Linked DNA regions of Homo sapiens. The protein of the gene in region 1 interacts with the protein of each later gene in a biochemical or structural test. Each region holds a gene or a part of one and is shown in the gene's direction. Other genes may lie near its edges.

Evidence for each region. Proteins that work in one complex are often made in the same cells at the same time.
Region 2: the proteins of SCARB2 (region 1) and THBS1 form a complex in vitro, tested with the Homo sapiens proteins (one study listed by BioGRID).

The regions. Positions count from the first base shown.
Region 1 is NC_000004.12:76,210,568-76,218,948, reverse strand, and holds the start of SCARB2 (lysosome membrane protein 2), read left to right. Parts: upstream 1-5,124; 5' UTR 5,125-5,405; coding exon 5,406-5,522; intron 5,523-8,381.
Region 2 is NC_000015.10:39,590,618-39,598,078, forward strand, and holds part of THBS1 (thrombospondin-1 precursor), read left to right. Parts: coding exon 1-6; intron 7-573; coding exon 574-733; intron 734-887; coding exon 888-1,006; intron 1,007-1,950; coding exon 1,951-2,185; intron 2,186-2,382; coding exon 2,383-2,610; intron 2,611-2,779; coding exon 2,780-3,051; intron 3,052-3,481; coding exon 3,482-3,579; intron 3,580-3,683; coding exon 3,684-3,823; intron 3,824-4,744; coding exon 4,745-4,752; 3' UTR 4,753-7,461. UniProt on the Homo sapiens protein: Adhesive glycoprotein that mediates cell-to-cell and cell-to-matrix interactions.

The DNA.
Region 1 (8,381 bases):
CATCATAGGGCATTGTAAGGAGTAAATGAAGTAATGCAAGCCCACTGTCTAGCATAGTGCTTGTACAAGTACTATGTACAAGTAGCAGATAATATTGCTGACATATTCACCCTTTTTGCCCACTATATTTTTCTCCTCTTTGATCTCCTGACTCCTCGCCCTCCAACCACACATTCTATTAGTTAGACAACACTACGCTTGTGTTTTCAGGAAAGGGAAGAGAAAAAGGTGAATAGGATATCTCCTCCTAGTTCCGTGTTTCAATAAGTCTGCATTATTAGGGGAACAAAAAGGAAAATAAGAATTTGAAGAGGGGAATTCTCATTTTCCCATAACCCCAAACAAAATAAAAACCAAACCAAACCAAAACAAACTGGAAAAGATTCCCCTAGTTGGGGGTGCAAAGATGATAATGAGGAAGCCATGAGGTCTTCTTGATCGGAGGAGGCGGTAGACAGGGACATGGGTAACTTCACAGAGAGTCCCTGTGGCCTGGCACAGGTGCATGTGATATAATATAAATGGTATATGAGCTCTCCTCTGGGATATGTAAGCCTATCTGCATAAAGCAGTTCTGTAATGTAAGAACTTTGGAATGATGGGTAGGGGAGGAGGGAGGAGAGAGTAATTTTTTCTTATGGAGGCTGTATTGCTCAGGATTTAGGATGCCCCACAAACATTTAGGAATAACATATGTCAAATCACTAGGGTGTGATGGTACATTTTATAGATCACCTTCAATAAGAAGAAAGCCAAGACTTTTAGAAGTATCTTGGAGCCTGACCTGTCCCAAAGTAGGCAAGGCCTAGGGCCATTTCCATTCAAACTCCTGGGATCAAGTGATTCTCCTGCCTTGGCTTCCCAAAATGCTGGGATTACAGGCATGAGCCACCTGGCCCGGCCTGTGGTGTATTTTAAATGTTTATATTTAACACATTAACACTTTGAACATAAAAGTATACAATGACTACATCATTAAACTCATTTGAGTATAGTATCAACATTCTAAATTTAAGGTAGAGCCCAAAGAGCCCTCTTGCTTCCCCTCGATAGCCCTTAGAGTCTGTGAAGAAAGCTCTTTTTCTAAGTCCCGAATGATTGCATAATTTCAACAGGCACCAGCAATCATTCATTAAGTGTACTTGTTCTTCTCAGATAAAGTCTTCTGATTTTAGGTATAGAGAGATCACCGTATCTCCTTGCCACAGCATCAGTCTCCTCATTTTCCGCCCTTGTCTGTTTGTGTTGCTATAACAATACCTGAGATTGGGTAGTGAAAAGAGGTTTATTTGGCTCATGGTTCTGCAGGCTGGACAAGACGCACGGCACAGACATCTGCATTGGATGAGGGCCTCAGGCTGCTTCCACTCCTGGGAAGGCAGAAAGGGAGCACACCTGTGTGAGGCACATGGGCAGAGAGGAAGCTAGAGAGAGAAGGAGGAGGTGCCAGCTCTTTTCAACAACCCGCTCTCTGACAACTCACTCATGCCTGAGGGAGGCATTAATCTATTCATGAACAATCTCTCCTCAGGACCCAAACACCTCCCATTAGGCCCCACCTCCAACACTGGGGATCAAATTTCAACATGAGATTTGGAGGGAACACAAATCCAAACCATAGCAGAGAAGTCACCAGGAAGAGTCCTGATTGTCTCCCTGCCCTGGCATCAGCCTCCTCATCTAAACTCTGGGAGCAGTAACCCCTTCCCAAGCTGTCTGCCCCTCCAGAGTGTGTTCAGGGTTATTAGTGGCTGGCAAGCAGGGGCTACTCCCTGGATGAGAGGGCAAAGTCTCTCATAGGGTGAGATGATCCTGTGGCAATAAACTAACAATGCCAATTAGCGGTGCAGACATGTCCTATAGATCAGAAATGAGGAGGAAGTCCCAAAGGGCATTGAGAAACTTAAATCTGGATTTTGGGGCTTTGTGTCAAAAGCTTCTGAACATAGCTGTGGGTAGAGAAGATGGAACTGAACAGAAAGACAGCCAGGCCAGCTGCTAAAAAGTTATGCCAGCCTCGGTGATAAGACAGAGATTACTGTGGGATCACAGACTGCTATTTTGGGAACATACATTATTTTCTTAAAAGCTGTTTATATTTTCTGTAATTAGGTCCTTTTTGTTCTGTCTTATGTTAACACATTTAAAAATGCTAGCCTGGTCAGCTGTGTTAAGAAGAACCAAGAAAGAGATTTTCATTCGGCTTGTCCAGAGTTTTAAAGGGGAAGTGGCTTACTAACCGCCTGACATAGTGGAAACAGAGTGAGATCCTCAGAGAGCAGGTAAACTGAGGGCAACTTGAGCTGTAAACCCTTGTTTAGAAACTCTCCCACACTAAGATACATTTATCAAATTTGTCTCCATCTCTCCATCCCCACAGTCTGTTACTGTCCTGGTGGCCCAGACAAGAGAGAAGAAGGGACCTCAATGAACAATGAAAAGGAAGAGTACCCTGGGATTGGTGGTCCAGGGATGGGAGGAGTGGGTACCTATGGAGTTTGCCCTCCAGAATGGAGCCCGCAAACAGAAAATCTGATTGTAGCAGTCAGAGAGTAGGGGGTGGAAGTTCAGTGTGAGCATGAACTTCTGAGTGCCAAAGTACCTAGGCAGGCAAGTTACCAAATTTTTTTTTCTAGTTAGGGAAGGAGAGGACATATAGATGACAGGAGGACTTCAACCAATGCCTAGGTAGGGGACATGTGAGGGTTAGTGGGCTAGCATTGCTCCTTAAGCAAACTGGGGCACAGAGCAGAGTTAATGTAGCTAACTGAAACTTAACAGCAGAGAAGAGGCAGGATTAGGGGAAGAGAAAGGCTGCCGATTGTGGACACCTGAGGACTGGAGACCACCCACCCATCAGGCTGGGGACAGTTGAATCATTCAGGACCCCACCAGGTTCTATTTGAACACAGGACTGGTCCTCTGGGGCTGCTGCTTGAAGAGCTTTGGTAGCTACAAAATGTCCCAGCCTCAGTTCTGCCCTTACCATCTGCTCCAGTTATCTACTGAGTAACCTACCACACCAACACTCAGTGGCTTAAACAACAACAATCCTTTATTTTGCATTTTGAGCAGGGCTCAGCAGGGACCACTCACCTCTGCTCTGTAATGTCTAGGGCCTGTGACTCAAAAGGCTAGGGACAGCTGGGGACTGGTGGGACATTTCTCTTCCTACAGACTCAGGGCTTCTCCCCACAGTCTTTCCCATGTTCTCTGCAGCAGTCTCCGGGTAGCTGAACTTAGGGGTGACTTGAGGCTCCAAGAGCAAGAATTTGCAAAGGCCCCAGCAGAAGTTGCAAGGCATTTATGATCTAGCTTCAGAAGTTCCAGGATATGGTCATTTCCACTGTATTCTATTGGTTTAACAAATTGCTAAAACCTGCCCAAATTCAAAGCGAGAAAGTATAGACCCCACCTCTCAACGAAAGGAGTAACAAATAATTTGCCACCATTTTTAAACCATCATGCTATCTCACCAAGTCCTCAACAAAGCCTCCTAACTGATTTGCTGTCCTCAGATTCTCATTAGTGACAGATCGGGATGCAGCAATGCGCAGAGTAGAAAAAGTGAGGGTTTTGGAAGCCAACAGCCAGCCCTACATCCTGGTTCAAGCAGGATCCACCACTCAGCAACCAGTTGAGCTTGTTAGGTTACTTAACTCAGAGCCCCAGTGTTCTTGAGTGTAAAATGAGGATAATACACTATAGTTGCCAAGAAAATGTACTTCTTGGATCTTGCAGTGTAGATAGCATAACTGACCAATGGCTCCGCCTCAACTGCTGAGCTCTGCTGAAATCCATACCCTGATATTTATCCCTAGGTTGCTGCAAAGGCCAGCTTCCTAAGGCTGCTCCCAGCTCATGACTGAGCACAGCAGGGATACTAAGGCGGGCCTCTTTCTGGGAGATGCCAGACTTCTGGGACAAGCCCATTTGGCTAAAGGATTCCCCACCCCAATGGCCTTGCTGAACTTTTTATACATGGACTGTATATATATCAAATGCTTCCTTCCACCCAACCTTCCTTCCTTGCTTGCCTCTTTCCTTCACAAGGATCACACCTGCATCCCAGGTCCAGCTCCCTGTTTTCCCTCAAAACTCTCTTGCATAGTACCCCCATCTGGGACTGTTTCTGGAGGACTGGGACAAACACAACCTCCTATTCATAGGACTGCCAAGGGTATTAAATGAGTAGAACTGTGCAAAGAAACTAGTAAAGGGCTGGCGTAGAAGAAACACTCATTTAACGAACACTTCTTGAGTCCTGGCTGTGTGCAGGTCTTGGTCCTGGGTGTCTGGGACACCACAGTGAGCAAAGCAGGCAAGAACACCAGCGATGCCTGCTTTAAGCTCCTTCCCAACTTCCACATCTTTAACAGGATACCAAGAGCCCTTCAAAGTCTGACCTCTTGGGGCCTCAACACCTCCGACTCCACCCCCTGAACACCTGAGCCTACAGTCAAAAGGAACTTCCTTCTTGCTTCCTACAGGTTTTGCTCTTTCACCCCCAATGCCTTTGCTCACCGTTTCCTTCTCCGTGAAATGCCTCCTCCTCCCTTTTTTGCACATCTTCCATTCTTGCACATGCCCCTTACGTGACAAACTTATGCATCCCCCAGGCCCCAGTTCAATGTGGGGCCCTAGGTCATCCAGGCAGAACATGCTTGCTGGCATGATCTCAGCAGGCACCTGGTAGAAGCACTTGCTACATTGTGTTGTAATTGCGGTAACGGTGTCCCCGCTAACTTGCGAGCGCCTCTAGAGCAGGGGAATGTCCCAGCCACCTTGAATCCCCAGCGCGTGGCCCATGGGAGGCCCTCAGACCTATCTGCGGAATGAGTAAATGAGTGTGTGAACCAGGTTCGGCAATTTCGGTGGGGCGAGCGCTGGGCCTGCGGTGCAGGGCGCTGGGAGCGGCCAGGCCGGGCCTGGCTCAGGCGCCGCAGCCACTCAGGGCCACCGGGGACCGGCCGGGGAGGGCGCGGGCCGAATCACTGCCGCCGCCGCAGGGCACATGACTGCGGCCTCCGCCCCCGCCCGCCTCCCCGCGCAGTCGCCGGCGGTTGCCTCGCGGGGTTGCGGCGAGCCCGGCCCGCGAACGTCACGTCCCTGCGCGCTCCCTGCACTCTCCCGAGCTGCGCTAGGCGGGCGCCACGGCTGCCCGGCGAAGGAAACCGAAACCGAGTCCGGGCCCGTCCCTCCGCGGCCCCATCCGCCCGGTGCACCCGGGGCCGCGCTCGCCAGGCCGCGGAGCCCAGAGCTGCGCGCACGAACCGTGCGCCGGGAGGGCGTGGGCGTGGCGCCGAAGGGTCCCGGGTCTTCGACGCCTCTGCGGCGGCTCCTCCCTCCTTGCAGTTGGATCCCTGGCGGGTGCGGCCCGGCCCGGCCCGTGAGCGGCGCACAGAATGGGCCGATGCTGCTTCTACACGGCGGGGACGTTGTCCCTGCTCCTGCTGGTGACCAGCGTCACGCTGCTGGTGGCCCGGGTCTTCCAGAAGGCTGTAGACCAGAGTATCGAGAAGGTGAGGCGGGGCGGGCTGTGTGTGTGTTGTGGAGTCGTCCAGCTCACCCTCCCATCCCTGCTGCTACATCTTGTATGGGAAAGACCAGCACTCAGGCAGACCCTCCGCGCTAGAGCTCTTCTTGCGTCCCTGTCTTCCAGGGCTTGGTAGGCGAGGGTTAAAGAAGGATGAGGAAGGATGGAGCCGACTCTGTTCCCTTTACAGTGATAAGTAAGGCTATGGATCCTGACTTTTAAAAAGGCCTTCGGTTGTGTTCTGTCGTTTGCATCTCTCCCCACTCCTTCCGTCTACACCCCAATCTCAGGTGGGCCCAAACTTGTTTCCTTCCCACTTCATGAAGAAACAGAACTGAATGAAAGACACCGCAGAAGAGGCAGGTTATGTTGTCTGCTTGCTGTAGCCTTTGAAGTGGTGTGCGCCTGGGGATGAGACGTGGGTGTGCGGTCTATTGTGTTCTTGCCCTCTTGGGCTGGGCAGGGGCAGTTGGTAGCTGGGCCAGTCCTTTAGGCTGGGTGACAATTCATCCATCAGTCTTTGCTGAACGCTGACTTAGTGGCTTTGTATCTTGTACCAACAGTCTGTGTTGCTTTGTCTCACCATGAATTCTTGTTTTTCTCAAACGGCCATAATTTTCAGGCACAGATGCATTTAGATACCCTACAAGAATCTGAACTTGTCTCTTCCTCTAGATGATTGGGCTGGAGAGCCAGTCCTTTAAGAAGACTTCATCTTTTGATTTCACTGGTCATTTCATCTGCCCTTTCCCCCACATCCACCAAGCTGTGTCAAAAGAGGAACAAAAGAGAATTACTGGGATCATTTTTTCCTTAAAAAAGAAAAATAATCACTGGAGCAGCAGCCTTTCTTGTTAGCATCCATAACTGCACGCTTCATTTCTCCCACTGGTCTGCACTTGCTGCGGCCAGATAAAAAAGCCCAGGCCTAGTCTACTTTGAATCACTGCACTCTCCAGTCAGTAAAGCTATTTTATTCCAGGTGGCAATGGATATCTTCCTTTAACTGAGTTTCCAAAAGTAATTAAGTGAGTACCTGAAATCTGGCAGTTAAAGGCAGTTTTTCAAAAAGCACCATGGCAAAGCATAATGTAATTTTTAAAGTTCACATTGCCAAGGGAAGACAAGGCCCACTGTCTGAGCGTCTCGAGGGTCAGTTTCCTTTGAGCAATCATGTTCAAGGAAAAAAGAAACTGAATCCTTTCTCCACTCCTGTCCATGTCCAAATCCATGGTGAGCTGTGTTTGAGGATGTAAACTCTTGCTTTGGGTGACTAGAGTAAAGCAATCCAATTATAGTAAATATGTGAGTTTTCTTATATGGCCTTGAAAGGCTGTTTCAAGGAGCCCTATAGGATGAGTGATCTTCCCCGTGGTTCCCATATAGCCAGCCCTTAGATTCTCTGTGTGTCTCCATTTCTCTGGGTGAGGGGGTGGCTGTAAGGCAACTTGGCTGGGGCCTGAGTTTGTGTTGATATTTCCAAGTGTTTTTCTCCATGAGGAATGGACTCTGTTCTGATAAGTAATAGTACAGGGAAGTGGACTTTCAGAGCTGCTCAATCCCAGCTAAGGAGGACTGCACGGTGTATTGTATGAAACTAAAGGACAGGGCTAGTTTCAGTGGGCAGGTGTGGAAATACTGTTGTCATTAGAGGTAAGTCACACATCGCTATTCTGCTTTTTCCTGGATTACCTGTAGGGTGGTAGGTAGCATGGGACAGTGGGAAAGATTGAGGATGTTACACTCCTGGGCATGAAACCTAGCTTCCACTATGTCCCAGCTCGGTGACCGTGGGCTGTTTAATCTTACTTGATTCATGTTTTCCCCATCTGTAAATAGGGATAATAAGGACTAACGATCACATCTGCTTTGTCAAATAATTCTTATAACCTTAAGGTGTGATCTTTCTGGGATATAGTTAGTGCTTAATAGGTGATAGCAACTTTATTTTTATTAGAAGCCACACAAAGAAAATACGTGAGATTTGGAGTCAGATTCCATATGTTCAAATCCTATCCTTGCCAGTATAAGCTTTATGACTTACGTCAAATAACTTACTTGGTCCTCAATTTCATTGCTTGTAAAACTGGGGATATGAGCTGTTAGCTAACTTGGGCACAGTGATGCATTTACCATGAAACTCGCAAAGTTAAGCTTTGGGTCTCTCACTTGCACAGACCCTTGCGAAGCCCTGTACCTCATTCTATATCCCAAATTTTCTTTTTTCTTAAGAAGGACCCTTCAAATTGTATAAGCTTCAGGACCCACAAAACCTGGATTTGTCTCTGCATGTGTATTATTGTAGGACCAAGTATAAAGCACTTAGCATAGTATCAGGCACAGAATAGGTAATCAATATGTGGCAGTCATCTTTATTGCCACTAGTATTACTATGGGAGAATTCATTCATAACTTGATTCTAATGTAGTTATAATATAATCTACTCTGATATTTCCAGTTCTTTGTTTTTTCATTTGAAGATTGTCTATGCCCCGACTTGTCTATGTCAAAAAGGGAAGAGGGAAAAGGGATGAAATTCAAATGAGTAGGTGTGGGAAGCTTAGTAAGAGAATTCCTATCCAAAAAGTTGTCTCAAATGATAATTGTCCTTGAACCCTGCAGTGACCAGAGGTAACTGAAGAGAGACTTTTAATTTTGGCCAGTGAATATCGTGGAAGGAACCAAGACAATTTTGTTTCATTTTTGGCCTCAGTGGTGACTGCCTCGTATTGGGCAAGGCCTGTAATTGTTTCTGCTTCAATTTTCTCATTTGCAAGAGAGGCATAATAGTACTTCTCTTTTTCCCACACCCTCTTCCTAGGGGATATTGTGAGCATTAATAAGG
Region 2 (7,461 bases), on another chromosome or scaffold:
GACAGGGTAAAAACAGTTTTCTATCCCTTTTTCATCTTTTCAGTTCAGCAACAGCCTGAAACACTTTGGGATTCAAGGAAATTACATGGCTATAGCAAAAAATATACCAAATCAATACACAGGATAATTAGAAATTATTCATTGTGTTCCAGTAGTTTAAGGATGTAGATGTTGCCAAGAGAATTTTTAAATGAGGGTTTTGTTTTTCATCAGAACTGTTTTTCTCTGTACTTGAGAAATTATAATGCATAAACAAATGCCACTTTGTTCCCTAGATTCATTTCAAATGTCACATCGAAATTACAGTAAAATTGACTTTGGGCACACTATGAACTGAGATGATGGGATTATATTCTACATCTCACTAACTTCTAACCCACAGGGATCCATTTTTTTAACTATGTCCTTTTAACTTTTGTAGTGATCGTTTTACACTGAGTGATCAATTAGCCTATCCACTAGGTAGAAAGTATTGCTGATTTTCACAGTTTTAGACATATTATGCACATGGTTTGAGGCTTGAGCTGTTTTCAAGGACAACATTGTTAAGTGCTCCATTTCTTCTCTTTGCAGGACAACTGTCCATTCCATTACAACCCAGCTCAGTATGACTATGACAGAGATGATGTGGGAGACCGCTGTGACAACTGTCCCTACAACCACAACCCAGATCAGGCAGACACAGACAACAATGGGGAAGGAGACGCCTGTGCTGCAGACATTGATGGAGACGGTAAGGTGCTGCCTGATCAGAGGGCCCGCGGGAGACAGGGACATGCACAGCTTTCCAAACGTACTTCTGTCTAGTCCTGGCTATTAGTATGCACTTTGGTGGAAACATCCAAGGCTGGAGAGCCCAGCTCTTATTTGTCCCTTGTTCTCTTCAGGTATCCTCAATGAACGGGACAACTGCCAGTACGTCTACAATGTGGACCAGAGAGACACTGATATGGATGGGGTTGGAGATCAGTGTGACAATTGCCCCTTGGAACACAATCCGGATCAGGTAGGTGGATGGACTCCTTTCAGAGTCTTTCAGTAAACTGTTGGAATATCCCTTTCATGGCCTTTGAAAAATGAGCTTAACAAAGTTCAAACACTTTCATTACTGTGGCTCCCTGGCTTCTCATAGCCAACTGGAATACGTTCATGTAAATAATTTGCCTGATGTGAGCTCCTTGCACAGAGTCTCACAGATCTTTAGCATGAAGATCTGGTAACTTCAGTCTTACCTTCTGTAAGAAGGGCTACTGGACTTGCTCAGCATCGTCTACCATTGTTAAGACAAATTATACAAAGCAGACATCTGTGACTGACAACTGTACAATAATATTAATCATATGTAATACTAAGAGATGGAAAAATAAATGTGCATAAGCAAAATAACCATTTTCATGGCTAATGATGTAATCTAGCTATAAGAAAATCATCAAACTAAGGATACATCCAAAACCAAAGTAATTTATCCCTGTCATAAACATTACCCAGACAGTATACAACACAGGGACCAGTGGTCTGTTTCCATCTTTTCAGGACTTTTCAGAGAAGTCGACGTGTCAACAGTTTTACAACTGAAACCTTCTAAGGAAATTCTCTGTTATAAAGTATCCAGAAAATTTCATTTAACATTAAGATGTAAACAGTTAACATTTCATTTCATCTTTAGTAATTAAATATCACTCTATTTGACCTTATTTAGAAAGTTTTATATGTAAAACATTTTTAAATTATCCCTTCTCAGATTTTTATACGAAAACAAAGATAAAGGAAAAAAACTTTTAAAATGTAATTGCTACTATTGCTATCTTTCTGCAGGAGTGTGTAAATAGACATGACACCCCACTGGCTGTATCAAACAATGGAGAATTTTCCCTGTGGTGGGGGCATAAGTTATCTTTAACATGAATGGTTTATACTGCAATTTACCCTCCATTTACATCTCTCTTTCAGCTGGACTCTGACTCAGACCGCATTGGAGATACCTGTGACAACAATCAGGATATTGATGAAGATGGCCACCAGAACAATCTGGACAACTGTCCCTATGTGCCCAATGCCAACCAGGCTGACCATGACAAAGATGGCAAGGGAGATGCCTGTGACCACGATGATGACAACGATGGCATTCCTGATGACAAGGACAACTGCAGACTCGTGCCCAATCCCGACCAGAAGGACTCTGACGGTGAGTCATGGGAGCCACTTTCTAAGACAGGGACTGCTGGCACAGCTGTGTAGATTGAAGAAATGAAACCAAGGCTCAAAGCATTTGACAGGATGAAGGGACCAAATGCCAACTTAGACAAGATAGTGACATTTCTGACACCAGTAATAATAATAGCACTTTAGAATTTTGCTGAACTCTTGCTTTTTTGACCTCAGGCGATGGTCGAGGTGATGCCTGCAAAGATGATTTTGACCATGACAGTGTGCCAGACATCGATGACATCTGTCCTGAGAATGTTGACATCAGTGAGACCGATTTCCGCCGATTCCAGATGATTCCTCTGGACCCCAAAGGGACATCCCAAAATGACCCTAACTGGGTTGTACGCCATCAGGGTAAAGAACTCGTCCAGACTGTCAACTGTGATCCTGGACTCGCTGTAGGTGAGTAGCGAGTTCTTAGATCCTAAGAGACTGATGCATACATGGGGAAAAACAAATATAAAACCTGGCAGTTGTACCTATCCCTGTGGGTGCTGAGGATGTCTAGGAACATGATGGAGAACCTTCTGAAGGCTGCAGGTTTTAACCTGGCTCTGGGCTCTTCTTCCAGGTTATGATGAGTTTAATGCTGTGGACTTCAGTGGCACCTTCTTCATCAACACCGAAAGGGACGATGACTATGCTGGATTTGTCTTTGGCTACCAGTCCAGCAGCCGCTTTTATGTTGTGATGTGGAAGCAAGTCACCCAGTCCTACTGGGACACCAACCCCACGAGGGCTCAGGGATACTCGGGCCTTTCTGTGAAAGTTGTAAACTCCACCACAGGGCCTGGCGAGCACCTGCGGAACGCCCTGTGGCACACAGGAAACACCCCTGGCCAGGTAAGAAGCAAAGCCCTGGAACAGAGAGAGAGCTTATGGGTGCCTGACTAGCACTGGGGATGCTGTGCTTTGACCAAGACTCTGACCAGGGAGTCTTAGAAAGTTCCCAGCATCACCAGCTGCAGCATTGAACTCTGCTTTGTAAAAACATAATAGTGTTGAAAAGGGAGCTTGACCAAGAATTGCCCTGCAAATCCTAAGGTGCCTTCAGCCTTTTCAAACAAAAAAACCTCCTTCCCTCCTCTCTGTCTGCTTTATATGTGTGCTCAGTGGCACACAACAAATATGAGAGGACTTGGAAAAATTCCCCATTGCAGCCCTCTAACTTAGATCAGCTCAGTACCTTTCAAGCATTGTTTCTGATGGAATGAAATAGAAATCTTTACCTGAAGGAGCTGTGTTTCAACCTTTCCTTTTCCTTTTCCTTCAGGTGCGCACCCTGTGGCATGACCCTCGTCACATAGGCTGGAAAGATTTCACCGCCTACAGATGGCGTCTCAGCCACAGGCCAAAGACGGGTTTCATTAGGTACGATCATACTGATTCACTTTCACTTACAGTCACACTGAGGGACAAAAAGACAAAAAGTATTAAATAGCATTGTCACTAAACAAGATTTTTTTTCCCTGCAGAGTGGTGATGTATGAAGGGAAGAAAATCATGGCTGACTCAGGACCCATCTATGATAAAACCTATGCTGGTGGTAGACTAGGGTTGTTTGTCTTCTCTCAAGAAATGGTGTTCTTCTCTGACCTGAAATACGAATGTAGAGGTAAGAGCAACATCACCATGAATGTACACTGGACATCTCTATTTCAGACTAATATCAAGGATGACGGTTATGGGGGAGTCCAGTGTAAAGACTGTTTTGGAGACAGGGTTATTTCTATTTTGCTTTTGAGGACACAAGGACAAAAATGGAATAATGCCTAGGCACTGTGGCTTATGAGTTCCTGAGTCCTTAGCTATAATATTAGTTTGCTTAGCAATCTCTGTGCTCCTCATACACAGTGCAAAGGTAAGCTGCAGAAAAGCTCCTATATAATTTGGACTTCATTAATAATACTGTTCTTTACAATTATATATTTATATATCTTACTGCTTATTGTTTTATGCATGCCATCACAGCACGAGTTAGCATTCCCAACTTTTCCCTGTATACAAAGAAGGGAGAGGAATGTTGCTTTCATATTGGCATGTTAAATTAATGTTCACTATTAAACTTAGCATTTTTTTTCCTCATTCTTTTTTACTTAGTCATTACTTAAGCTCGCTGAGTCCAACACTGGCTCTACCACAAAATAAGTGCTTAATATATATTTACTGGGCCAAGGCCAGATACCTAAAAGATCAATGACAGTAGAGAAAGATGGTTGATTTTACTCAAAAAAATCTAAATTATTAATGTAATTTTTGAGTCCAAATTTTTAAAATAAGACTCCCTAAACTGTTAACATTGAAAGCCTTTGGAAAGCATAATATATGTTCTGGAAGGTTCACGCTGTGTCGGTCTCCTAGCATCAATGTCAGCTAATAAAATTAAATGCTAATGTGCTTGAACAACCTTAAAATTAGGCTTTTGTCATTAGAAAAGTAGAGCTATTCCTATGTGGTTAACTTATTAACTAAGATGTCTATGCTTTTATGAATTAGTTTTCATTTGTATATTTATTTATATTTGTTTATTTAACAGATCCCTAATCATCAAATTGTTGATTGAAAGACTGATCATAAACCAATGCTGGTATTGCACCTTCTGGAACTATGGGCTTGAGAAAACCCCCAGGATCACTTCTCCTTGGCTTCCTTCTTTTCTGTGCTTGCATCAGTGTGGACTCCTAGAACGTGCGACCTGCCTCAAGAAAATGCAGTTTTCAAAAACAGACTCAGCATTCAGCCTCCAATGAATAAGACATCTTCCAAGCATATAAACAATTGCTTTGGTTTCCTTTTGAAAAAGCATCTACTTGCTTCAGTTGGGAAGGTGCCCATTCCACTCTGCCTTTGTCACAGAGCAGGGTGCTATTGTGAGGCCATCTCTGAGCAGTGGACTCAAAAGCATTTTCAGGCATGTCAGAGAAGGGAGGACTCACTAGAATTAGCAAACAAAACCACCCTGACATCCTCCTTCAGGAACACGGGGAGCAGAGGCCAAAGCACTAAGGGGAGGGCGCATACCCGAGACGATTGTATGAAGAAAATATGGAGGAACTGTTACATGTTCGGTACTAAGTCATTTTCAGGGGATTGAAAGACTATTGCTGGATTTCATGATGCTGACTGGCGTTAGCTGATTAACCCATGTAAATAGGCACTTAAATAGAAGCAGGAAAGGGAGACAAAGACTGGCTTCTGGACTTCCTCCCTGATCCCCACCCTTACTCATCACCTGCAGTGGCCAGAATTAGGGAATCAGAATCAAACCAGTGTAAGGCAGTGCTGGCTGCCATTGCCTGGTCACATTGAAATTGGTGGCTTCATTCTAGATGTAGCTTGTGCAGATGTAGCAGGAAAATAGGAAAACCTACCATCTCAGTGAGCACCAGCTGCCTCCCAAAGGAGGGGCAGCCGTGCTTATATTTTTATGGTTACAATGGCACAAAATTATTATCAACCTAACTAAAACATTCCTTTTCTCTTTTTTCCTGAATTATCATGGAGTTTTCTAATTCTCTCTTTTGGAATGTAGATTTTTTTTAAATGCTTTACGATGTAAAATATTTATTTTTTACTTATTCTGGAAGATCTGGCTGAAGGATTATTCATGGAACAGGAAGAAGCGTAAAGACTATCCATGTCATCTTTGTTGAGAGTCTTCGTGACTGTAAGATTGTAAATACAGATTATTTATTAACTCTGTTCTGCCTGGAAATTTAGGCTTCATACGGAAAGTGTTTGAGAGCAAGTAGTTGACATTTATCAGCAAATCTCTTGCAAGAACAGCACAAGGAAAATCAGTCTAATAAGCTGCTCTGCCCCTTGTGCTCAGAGTGGATGTTATGGGATTCTTTTTTTCTCTGTTTTATCTTTTCAAGTGGAATTAGTTGGTTATCCATTTGCAAATGTTTTAAATTGCAAAGAAAGCCATGAGGTCTTCAATACTGTTTTACCCCATCCCTTGTGCATATTTCCAGGGAGAAGGAAAGCATATACACTTTTTTCTTTCATTTTTCCAAAAGAGAAAAAAATGACAAAAGGTGAAACTTACATACAAATATTACCTCATTTGTTGTGTGACTGAGTAAAGAATTTTTGGATCAAGCGGAAAGAGTTTAAGTGTCTAACAAACTTAAAGCTACTGTAGTACCTAAAAAGTCAGTGTTGTACATAGCATAAAAACTCTGCAGAGAAGTATTCCCAATAAGGAAATAGCATTGAAATGTTAAATACAATTTCTGAAAGTTATGTTTTTTTTCTATCATCTGGTATACCATTGCTTTATTTTTATAAATTATTTTCTCATTGCCATTGGAATAGATATCTCAGATTGTGTAGATATGCTATTTAAATAATTTATCAGGAAATACTGCCTGTAGAGTTAGTATTTCTATTTTTATATAATGTTTGCACACTGAATTGAAGAATTGTTGGTTTTTTCTTTTTTTTGTTTTGTTTTTTTTTTTTTTTTTTTTTGCTTTTGACCTCCCATTTTTACTATTTGCCAATACCTTTTTCTAGGAATGTGCTTTTTTTTGTACACATTTTTATCCATTTTACATTCTAAAGCAGTGTAAGTTGTATATTACTGTTTCTTATGTACAAGGAACAACAATAAATCATATGGAAATTTATATTTATACTTACTGTATCCATGCTTATTTGTTCTCTACTGGCTTTATGTCATGAAGTATATGCGTAAATACCATTCATAAATCAATATAGCATATACAAAAATAAATTACAGTAAGTCATAGCAACATTCACAGTTTGTATGTGATTGAGAAAGACTGAGTTGCTCAGGCCTAGGCTTAGAATTTGCTGCGTTTGTGGAATAAAAGAACAAAATGATACATTAGCCTGCCATATCAAAAACATATAAAAGAGAAATTATCCCTAAGTCAAGGGCCCCCATAAGAATAAAATTTCTTATTAAGGTCATTAGATGTCATTGAATCCTTTTCAAAGTGCAGTATGAAAACAAAGGGAAAAACACTGAAGCACACGCAACTCTCACAGCGACATTTTCTGACCCACGAATGATGCCTTGGGTGGGCAACACGATTGCATGTTGTGGAGACACTTCGGAAGTAAATGTGGATGAGGGAGGAGCTGTCCTTGCAATGTTGAGCCAAGCATTACAGATACCTCCTCTTGAAGAAGGAATAATAAGTTTAATCAAAAAAGAAGACTAAAAAATGTAAAATTTGGAAGGAATCCATAAATGCGTGTGTGTCTAAATACAAATTATCA